3 linked regions of the Homo sapiens genome follow. The protein of the gene in region 1 purifies or fractionates together with the protein of each later gene. This does not show direct contact. Each region holds a gene or a part of one and is shown in the gene's direction. Other genes may lie near its edges.

Region 1 (3,653 bases):
CGGCTATTTCACCTTCCCTGGCTTTTAGTTTACCACGCCTTTAGACTTCAAGGTGACGGTCAGTACCTGTTAAAAGAGGTACCTGCAACTGTAAAGAGGAACTTACTTATCTGTCCACATTTTCATGTTTATGTGTCAGAATTTTTTAAAAAGAAGTGAAAATTAAGACAAATACTTCCTGATGGTATTGTCAAAACAATTTTATAAAATATGTAAAATTGCACCCCACCTTCAGTACTTCTTGTTCTCCTTCTTTATTGTTCCCTGTAGCACTTACTGCCACCTAATATACTATATATGTTACTTATTTGTCTTCATTGTTGTCTGCCTTCCTGCAGTGTAACTAACCTCTCCCTGATGGGGATGGTGGCCTGCTTTGTTTATTGTTGGCTCTCCAGCACCTTAGAACAGTGCCTGACACACAGTAGGCAATCTATAATATTTGTTCAATAAGTGTTGAATGAATTAATAGTACTATTAAACTGCTCATGATTGGGAAATATAAAGGGATTTGCCCTAATTAAAAACAGCTGAAACGATGTGTTAAGCAACCAGGACATGAATATTCTTGAAATCAGGAAATGTATAAACATCTCAACAGCCTTTGCCCAATATACAAACTTTTTAAACCTTGAGAACCACATGGTTGTGGTTGTTGCTGCTTTAAACTGAAGGCATTTTTAGATTATTTGTTCACCGTGAACTAGAAAGGAGCACACGGTGATGAATTGTGAAGTGCCCATCTTGCCCAATTAAATATACATGCTCCCCTACAAAGAAAAGGAAAGGAGTCAAATTTTGGAAAGCATGCATTTAGAGTCGGGGCATGGTGGACACCAGGGCAGGTGAGAGGTTCTGGTGGCTGGTTCAACATCTGGGAAATTCCAGAAGGGGGGAAATTCTTAATGTGGTCTGAGGGGAATGAGAACCCCAGGAGACTTCAGTCTTCACAGGTTGGTGTACCTTAATATCAGATCCAGCCTGCCTGCTGCACAGCTGGCCAGCAGCTTTACTTAGTCCTTATAATGGAAAACTTTTCAACTGAACACTTGGGATTTTCAGCTAGGGGATGCAGCACTGATTTTCATTGAGGGTAAACGGTGATTCACTTTGTAGACATGTATTTTATAGCCAGCTTTGCCAAGATGCATGTTCCATAAAGTGGGACAGTAGTGAGACATCACCACTGCTTCTTTTTTTCTTAAGCCAGTCAAATTTAGCAGTAGGGGGTGTATACCAACTTTAGCAACACTGATGTTAGTAAGTTCTTATTTTTAACTTTTTAACTTTAATTTTATTTTTTCTGCTTAGGTAGCTAATAAGTTCTGATAGCCCTTCTTTTTTAAAAAAAAATATTTATTTATTTATTTGTGAGATGGGACCTCACTCTGCCACCCAGGTTGGAGTGCAGTGGCATGATCTCGGCTCACTGCAACCTCCACCTCCCAGGCTCAAGCAATCCCACCTCAGCCTCCAGAATGACTGGGACCACAGGCACACCCCACCACACCTGGCTAATTTTTGTATTTTTGGTAGAGATGGGGTTTAGCCATGTTGTCCAGGCTGCTGTTGAGCTCCAGCCATCTGCCTGCCTCAGCCTCCCAAAGTACTGGGATTATAAGCATCAGCCACCGTGCCTGGCCCAACCCTGCTTCTATTAATAACTTTTATTAATACCTCACTAAATGAACCTATGATGAACTGTTGAATTGATGGACTTGAAAATACAATCAGTGATACTTCCAAAATGTATATACAGTAGCCAAGGGATTAGAAAAGTGGTAAAACCTGAAACATATGTTAAGTAAACTTTGTAGCCAGTTATGAATCATGGAATAGAACAATACCAGGATTTTAGAGAAATTAATGAAGGGTCTTTAGTTGATTGCTTACTTTGTAATGATAAAGAGAAGGTAAAACTGCACCTACTTTTTATTTTTGAAGTTAGAGTGATCACACCTGTTAATTCCTGCTTTCCTCCGTTCTGCATGTCCAAGCATCAGCAATGGTATCACTATTTAGATCCTGCTCAAGATAGTTTAAGAATCTGGAAACTTTTTGAAGTGTGGCTAAAAGCTGATTTATTTTGCTGCCATGATAGATGCTAAGAGCTTAATAATGTGAGATTTCATGGATGCTAATAAAATTTATTTCCTTATTGTGCTGCATCTACTTAATAGACTGGGCCCTGTGGTTTGTTTGTTTATTTAAGTCATCTGAGCACTTAATAACAATTTTGAGCAAAGGTACCTAACTAGTGGAGAAGTTTCTAGATACATTTTTTTCAGATATAGCTTTTTTTGTTTTGTTTTGAAATGGAATTTGGCTCTTTTTGCCCAGGCTGGAGTGCAATGGCACGATCTTGGCTCACTGCAACCTCCGCCTCCCTGGTTCAAGCGATTCTCCTGCCTCAGCCTCCCATGTAGCTGGGATTACAGGTGGGCGCCATCATGCCCAGCTAATTTTGTATTTTTAGTAGAGATGGGTTTCACCATGTTGGCCAGGATGGTCTTGAACTACTGACCTCAGACCATCCGCCCGCCTCAGCCTCCCAAAGTGCTGGGATTACAGGCGTGAGCCACCGCACCTGGCCCCAGATATAGCTTTTTTGATAGAGATGGAGACTGAGTTTGGAAAACTTTATCCTTTTTCTTCCATTTCTCCTTTTTGTACTTATAAATATTCTAATGTTTTCTATTCATTTTAAAAAATCCTTTAGTACCACTTCCTAAACAAGTTCCATATTCACTGTAATTAAATTAGGGTTATAGTACATTAATGGAAAAGACCTTAAGAATTACTTAAAGAAAGGGATTGACTCAACTCTTAGGTTTAACAGCTGAAGGCTGGGCGCAGTGGCTCACGCCTGTAATCTCAGCATTTTGGGAGGCCAAGGTGGGCAGATTACAGGCGGATTACCTGAAGTCAGGAGTTCGAGACCAGCCTGGTCAACATGGTGAAACCCCGTCTCTACTAAAAATACAAAAATTAGCTGGGCGTGATGGCAGCGCCTGTAATCCCAGCAACTCAGGAGGCTGAGGCAGGAGAATCACTTGAACCCAGGAGGCGGAGGTTGCAAGTGAGCCAAGATCTCCATTGCACTCCAGCATGGGCGACAAGAGTGAAAGTCCATCTCAAAAAAAAAAAAGATTTAACAGCTGAAAAAACCTGAAGCCTGGAGAAGTTACAGCAGTTGCCCAAATGCCTGCCATTGTGGTGTGACTAACACAGAACCAGGCATTTCTTTTTTTTTTTTTTTGAGACGGAGTCTTGCTTTGTCACCCAGGCTGGAGTGCAGTGGCGCAATCTTGGCTCACTGCAACCTCTACCTCTGGGTTCAAGTGATTCTCCTGCCTCAGCCTTCCAGGTAGCTGGGACTACAGTGCACCATGCCCAACTAATTTTTGTGTTTTTAGTAGACACAGGGTTTTGCCATGTTGACCAGGCTGGTCTCAAACTCCTGACCTCAGGTGATCTGCCCAGTCCATTTCTTTTGACACCTGATCCAGTGATTCTTCCTTTTTGTTTCTTTTTTGTTTTGTTTTATGTATATTTATGCTTGACATTATTCCCTATCTTCATTTCTGGTATCCTGTGGTAGTGATTAAAAAAATACATCTGGGCATCACTTTGTTACTAAATACAGAACAAGC
Region 2 (3,653 bases), on another chromosome or scaffold:
GGCGGAAGTTGCAGTGAGCCGAGATCATGCCACTGCACTCCAGCCTGGGCAACAAAGTAAGAATCCTTCTCAAGAAAAAAATACCTATTGATTGCATGTTACTATTATTTTTTAATTTGTGTAAATTTATGGAGCACAAGTGTAATTTTGTCACGTGCATAGATTGTGAAGTGGTGAGTCAAGAGATTTTAGGGCATCCATCCCCAAATAATATACATTGAACCCGTTACACAATTTTCCATGATCAACCCCAAATGTTATTTCAATCTTCATACTTTTCTATATTCTCCCAATTTTCTTTTGTTTTTTTTTTTTGAAGTAGAGTCTTGCTCTGTCACCTAGGCTAGAGTGCAGTGGTGCGATCTCGGCTCACTGCAACCTCTGCCTCCTGGTTCAAGAGATTCTCCTGCCTCAGCCTCCCAAGTAGCTGGGATTACAGGCATACGCCACCATGTCTGGCTCATTTTTATATTTATAGTAGAGACAGGGTTTCCCCAGGTTGGCCAGGCTGGTCTCAAACTCCTGACCCCAGGTGATCCGCCCACCTCGGCCTCCCAAAGTGCCGGGATTACAGGAGGGAGCCACTGCACCTGGGCCATTCTCCTAATTTTCTACAGTTGAGCATATATTAATTGTTTAATTGGGAAAACAAATATTTAAAGAGACAGCACAGCCTCATGTTGACTTGTTGTTTACTGGAAACCAGAGGTTGGCAAACTGACCTGCAGGCCAAACCTGGCCCACTAATTACTTTTTTTTTTTTTTTTTTTTTGAGACGGAGTCTCGCTCTGTCGCCCAGGCTGGAGTGCAGTGGCCCGATCTTGGCTCACTGTAAGCTCCGCCTCCTGGGTTCACGCCATTCTCCTGCCTCAGCTTTCCGCGTAGCTGGGACTACAGGCACCAGCCACCAGGCCCGGCTAATTTTTGTATTTTTAGTAGAGACGGGGTTTCACTGTGTTAGCCAGGATGGTCTTGATCTCTTGACCTTGTGATCTGCCCACCTCGGCCTCCCAGAGTGCTGGGATTACAGGCGTGAGCCACCGCGCCTGGCCCCACTAATTACTTTTATATGGCCACAAGCTAACAACAACTTTTATATTTTATTTTTATTTTTTTAGAGACACAGTCTTACTCTGTCACCCAGCCTGGAGTGCAGTGGTGTGATCGTAGCTCACTGCAGCCTCAACCTCCTGGGCTCAAGCAATCCTCTCATCTCAGCCTCCAGACTGGCTGGGGCTATAGGCACCTGCCTACATGCCCAGCTAATTGAAAAAAAAAATGTTTTTGTAGAGATGGGGTCTTGCTATGTTGCCCAGACTAGACTTGAACTCCTGGCCTTAAGTGATCCTTCCCACCTCAGCCTCCCAAAGCGCTAGGAATACAAACGTGAGCTACGGTGCCTGGCCAACAATTTTTACATTTTTATTATTTATTTATTTATTTGACACAGGGTCTCCCTCCGTTGCCCAGGCTGGAGTACAGTGGCATGATCTCAGCTCACTGCAACCTCCACCTCCCAGGTTCAATTGATTCTCCTGCCTTAGCCTCCCTAGTAGCTGGGACTACAGGTGTGCACCACCACGCCTGGCTAATTTTTGTATTTTTAGTAGAGATGGGGTTTTGCCTGTTGGCCAGGCTGGTCTCGAACTCCTGACCTCAGGTGATTCACCCGCCTCAGCCTCACAAAATGCTGGGATTACGGGCATGAGCCACCACACCCGGCCAATTTTTACATTTTTAAATCACTGGGGAAAAGAATCAAAAGAAGAAGAATATTGTGACACATGAAAACTGTATGAAATTCAGATTTCATTGCCCATCAATAAAGTGTCATCAGTACCCAGCCAAGCCCATTCATTTAAGTGTCGTCTGTAGCTGCTTTCAAGTGCCACAGGCAGAACAGAGTCATTGAGATAGAAACCGTCTGGCACACAAGCCTAAAATACTTACCACCTGGCCCTTTATAGAAGAAATTGACCAATTAAAATTAAAAGAGGCCGGGTGTAGTGGCTCATGCCTGTAATCCCAGCACTTTGGGAGGGTGAGGTGGGTGGATCACATGAGGTCAAGAGTTTGAGGCCAGCCTGGCCAACATGGTGAAACCCGTCTCTGCTAAAAATACAAAAATTGGCTGGGCATGGTGGTGGGTGCCTGTAGTCCCAGCTACTTGGGAGGCTGAGGCACAAGAATTGTTTGAACCCAGGAGGCAGTGAACGGAGATCACACCACTGCAATCCAGCCTGGGCGACAGAGCGAGACTCTGTCTCAAAAAAAATAAATAAATTAAATTAAAAGAGCATCATTGAGTTTTTTAGTCTAAAAAAGATACACACTTGGCTGGGCTCAGTGGATCACTTGAGGTCAGGATTTCGAGACCAGCCTGGCCAACGTGGTGAAACCCCACCTCTACTAAAAAAAAATACAGAAATTAGCTGGGTGTGGTGGCGGGTGCCTGTAATCCCAGCTACTTGGGAGGCTGAGGCAGGAGAATTGCTTGAACCCCAGAGGCGGAGGTTGCAGTGAGCCGAGGTGGCACCACTGAACTCCAGCCTGGGCGACAGAACGAGACTCTGTCTCAAAAAAAAAGATACACACTCATCAAAATTTAAACCATCCAGAAAAGGATAGATGTAGAAGGAAGTAACTTAACTCACATTTTGTCAAACTTTCCTTTTTGTGCCTCAACATGCATTTTTACTGTTTTTTTTTTGGGTTTGTTTTTGAGACAGGGCCTTGCCCTGTTGCCTAAGCTGGAGTGCAGTGTGCCATCATAGCTCATGGCAGCCTCAAGTCTCCTGGGCTCAAGTGATCCTCCTGCCACAGCCTCCCGAGGAGCTGGGACCATAGGCAGGTACCACCATTCCCAGCTAATTTTAAAATTATTTGTAGAGCCGGGCGTGGTGGCTCATACCTGTAATCCCAGCACTTCAGGAGGCCAAGACAGGTGGATCGCGAGGTCAGGAGATCGAGACCATCCTGGCTAACATGATGAAACCCCGTCTCTACAAATACAAAAAATTAGCCAGGCATGGTGGCATGTGCCTGTAGTCTCAGCTACTAGGGAGGCTGAGGCAGGAGAATCACTTGAACCCGGGAGGCGGAGGTTGCAGTGAGCCAAGGTAGTGCCACTGCACTCCAGCCTGGGAGAGTGAGACTCTGTCTTAAAAAAAAAAAAAAGTTGTTTGTAGATATAAGGTCTTGCTCTGTTGCCCAGGCTGGTCTCAGACACCTGACCTCAAGCGATCCTCCTGCGTTGGCCTCCTGAAGCCGTGGGATGGAAGGCATGAGCCACTGGGCCTCGCCTGTTTTTACATTTGTCTGTTGCTTCCCTGCCCACTGCAGAGGTTCAGATGTATGTGTGCAACAAGGAGGAGTACGGATTCTTGCCAGTGCCATTGCGCGCCCACAGCACCCTCCAGGATGAGGCCGAGAGCTTCATGCATGTGCAGCTGGAGGTCATGGGTGAGTCTGCCTGCACACCGCCCTGGGAGGTGCCAGGTTGCCTCCCTTTCACTGATGTCTCAAATCCGTCCCATGAGCACTGACTGAGTGCCAGGCAGATGCAAGTCCCTGTGGGGGGTGCTGGGTGCAACGGCACGTGTGAACGAGGTGGAGGGTTGTGTCTGCTCTCACAGAGTGCTGGTTTGCAGGTA
Region 3 (3,653 bases), on another chromosome or scaffold:
TATTTATTTATTTTTTTTTTTTAGACACAGTCTTACTGTGTCAGCCAGGCTGGAGTGCAGTGGTGCGGTCTTGGCTCACTGCAACCTCCACCTCCAGAGTTCAAGTGATTCTCCTGGCTTAGTCTCCTGCGTAGTTGTGATTACAGGCGTGTGCCACCATGCCCGGCTAATGTTTGTATTTTTAGTAGAGACAGGGTTTCGCCATGTTGTCCAGGCTGGTCTTGAACTCCTGACCTCAGCTGATCTGCCTATCTCAGCCTCCCAAAGTGCTGGGATTACAGGTGTGAGCCACCGTGCCCCCCCCACCTTTTTTTTTTTTTTTTTTTTTTTAAGAGATTGGGTCTCACAGTTTTGCCCAGGCTGGTTTCAAACCCCTGGCCTTAAGTGATCCACTCAGCTCGGCCTCCCAAAGTGCTTGGATTACAGGCATGAGCCACTGCACTTGGCCTGGAATATTTTTGTAATTGGCAAGTGAGATGAGGGACCTAATTTGTTTTCTGCTGAGTGACCAGTTGTGGCAACACTAATTTTTTTAGGTAAACCATTCTTTTCTTTCTGTAGGTGTAATTAAATGATGCTGTACATGTAGTATCACTTGGTTTTGAATGTGTATCATAGTTATCTCATGTATCCAGAAGTTACCAGAGAAGTGAAAGCATATCCGCCCTATTTTTTTTTATCCCTTAATCTTTCATCTCTCTTTCAAGGAAAGACGGATTCTAAAATACTCCTTTCCTTTGATTAGAGATAATGTAATAATTGTAGCAATGTCTAGGCTAGTACTATGTTTCTTCTATCTGAGAGTCTTCCAGGAGGAGTGAAAGTGTATCTGCCTTCTGTTTTTACACCTCCCCACCGAACCTTTCCTCTGTCTCAGGGTGGGGTAGGTAGACTCTAAAATACCTCTCTATTTTGTTTCTAAATAATGTAATAATTATAGTCAGGTTCAGGATAGTACTATATTTACCGTATTTCCAGTGTACAATTCGCTACCTATGGTCAAACATAGAATTTCAGCCCTAGTTGAAATGGGAGTTTGTGGTTTTAAAAATGTTTGTGTCCTTTCATTACTTACAATTCCAAAAGTTGAAACTCTGAGTGATACCTTGATACTTATGCTCTATTTATTAATGTAAATAGAATATGTTTTTGTGATTCTGTGTATGGTTAGAGAACTTTAAATAAAAATGACATTGTACTTTTTGACATTAAGACTATATACTGTTTAATTGTGAGCCCGTCTAAGCACACTCATCATCTTAACTCTCCCCTTACAGCATCAGGTCTGTTTTTGAAACACTGAGCCATGGTTGAGTTTTTCAGACACTCAAGCACTTTGTATAGTTGATTTTTTAAAAAAAGATTGTGTGTGTGTGTGTGTGTGTGTGTGTGTGAATTTTAATAGTTCTATTTCTTTTTTTTTTTTTTTTTTTGAGACGGAGTCTCACTTTCACCCAGGCTGGAGTGCAGTGGCACATTGTCGGCTTGCTGCAACCTCCACCTCCCGGGTTCAAGTGATTCTCCTGCCTCAGCCTCTTGAGTAGCTGGGATTACAGGCAAGTAACTCGGATTACAGGTGCCTGCCACCACACCTGGCTAATTTTTGTAGTTTTAATAGAGACAGGGTTTTACCATGTTGGCCAGGCTGGTCTCGAACTCCTGACCGCAAGTGATCTGTCTGCCTTGGCCTCCCAAAGTGCTGGGATTACAGGCGTGAGCCACCACGCCCGGCCATTAATTTCCATTTGTTTCTAAGGGACTTGCTTCACTAACTCCCCACCTGCCAAGGGTTCATTCCCTTTTTTTTAAATACACAGCTTCCTGGGTCTCTTCTCCAACTTGTAGTTTATTTATTTAGTTCCCCTTCCACCAGCAGACTCAAAATGGTGGGTAAGAAACATGGCATTTTCCATTGTGATTTTCTTTGCAACAGCTGGGGTGGGTTCTATATAGGCTTTGCTTCCACAAGGCCTGGGGGATGCAACACCTGTTGATGCTTCTCAGTTTTCCACTGCCTTTGACAGGTTGGTGGTTTTTAAGCCCTTTCCACTGTACCATCCCTACTGCCCCTGGTGCGAAAGCATCATCTTTTGCTCTTGATCTCTAGGTGGGTAAAACCTGCCTGATTAGTAGTGATTCAGATAGTGTGACCTCCTTCAGTTTTCTAAGGGCTGAAACTCCTTTTTTTTTTTTTCCTTTTTTCATGACTTCAGAGGTAATCAGGCTCTAGGGGACTGATTCTCTCTAACCAAACTCTGGAGACTGAATTGTAAATCCACATGCAAGGTTATTAATTTACAGTGGGAGGTATACCTATCCAGAGATCTGCATAGAGCCCCTTCCTGCTCTGCTCTAGAGACCAAATTACTATAAGAAGGGTCCTTGATGTGCAAAGAATTGGACAAGGGAAATTGGGTGTTGCCAAAAGGCTGTTTAAAGCAAGCAGCCTTGATTTTGGTGATCCTTCACTTTTCTAGTATTTTCTGGCTTCCGTTGCTTTGTTCCTTCTTTAAACTTTTCTTTTAATGCTGTCATCCATTGAAATCCTATACAGAGAAAAGAAAGCCTGCTCATCCTTCAGGCCCATGCATCCTAGGAGCTACAAACCCTATAAAGCCTTTCTGATTCCCCAGCATGTTGTTTTTATTCTTTGTTCCTTTAGCACTTTGTGGATACCACTTTTTGGAATATTTATTGTAGTTTTTCTTGTTATAGATATGTGTAGCAAGATGTATAGCTTGTGAAGAAGTTCAGGAAACGCCACCCCAAAATATGCTGCATTGGATCTCAAACTGAAGGCACTTGGGGAGCAGCAGATGGAGGGCTGTCTCTGAACTTACTTCATCTACCTAAAGACACATCCTCCAAAAGGAACTCTAGGCCGGGCGCTGTGGCTCACGCCTGTAATCCCAGCACTTTGGGAGGCTGAGGTGGGCGGATCACTTGAGGCCAGGAGTTCGAGACCAGTCTGGCCGACATGACAAAACCCTGTCTCTACTAAAAAATACAAAAATTAGCCGGGCATGGTGGCGCACGTAATCCCTGCTACTCGGGAGGCTGAGGCACAAGAATGGCTTGAACCTGGGAGGCAGAGGTTGCAGTGAGCCAAGATTGCACCACTGTACTCCAGCCTGAAAAAAAAAACAAAAGAAGGAACTCTATTGTCATGAATCCCTTCCCTGCTAACCTTATGAACCAGGGAAGATTAATTCCTATCACAGGAGATGAGACTGGAGGTCTATATCACATGCAGAAAGACAGCCTTAGCTGTCACCTGTTCTTCTGAGGGCCCATTGATTTTTTTTTCCCAAAAATCATTAAGTCGGGTGCAGTGGTGTGCACCTATAGGGAGGATCACTTGAGCCCAGGATATATATATACATATATGTGTATACACACACACACACACACACACACACACACACACAAAATATCTTAAGTGAATAGTGTACGTGGTTTACTCTCCCCTAAGTTGCCTATAAGAAATATAGAAATATAATTATTTCTATGGTTTTGTTATATAATTATTTCTATAATTTTATTATATAATTTTTCTATAATTTTATAGTATAATTATATAATTATTTCTTTTTTATATACTTTAAATTTTAGGGTACATGTGCACAACGTGCAGGTTTGTTACATATGTATAC

Evidence for each region.
Region 2: the proteins of CPNE3 (region 1) and COLGALT1 fractionate together in Homo sapiens (co-fractionation; one large-scale study listed by BioGRID). This does not show direct contact.
Region 3: the proteins of CPNE3 (region 1) and KDM3B purify together in Homo sapiens (affinity purification with mass spectrometry; one large-scale study listed by BioGRID and IntAct). This does not show direct contact.

The regions. Positions count from the first base shown.
Region 1 is NC_000008.11:86,517,419-86,521,071, forward strand, and holds part of CPNE3 (copine-3), read left to right. Parts: intron 1-3,653. UniProt on the Homo sapiens protein: Calcium-dependent phospholipid-binding protein that plays a role in ERBB2-mediated tumor cell migration in response to growth factor heregulin stimulation.
Region 2 is NC_000019.10:17,569,141-17,572,793, forward strand, and holds part of COLGALT1 (procollagen galactosyltransferase 1 precursor), read left to right. Parts: intron 1-2,830; exon of another isoform or gene 2,831-2,851; intron 2,852-3,342; coding exon 3,343-3,462; intron 3,463-3,653. UniProt on the Homo sapiens protein: Beta-galactosyltransferase that transfers beta-galactose to hydroxylysine residues of type I collagen. By acting on collagen glycosylation, facilitates the formation of collagen triple helix. Also involved in the biosynthesis of collagen type IV.
Region 3 is NC_000005.10:138,359,159-138,362,811, forward strand, and holds part of KDM3B (lysine-specific demethylase 3B), read left to right. Parts: intron 1-3,653. UniProt on the Homo sapiens protein: Histone demethylase that specifically demethylates 'Lys-9' of histone H3, thereby playing a central role in histone code. Demethylation of Lys residue generates formaldehyde and succinate. May have tumor suppressor activity.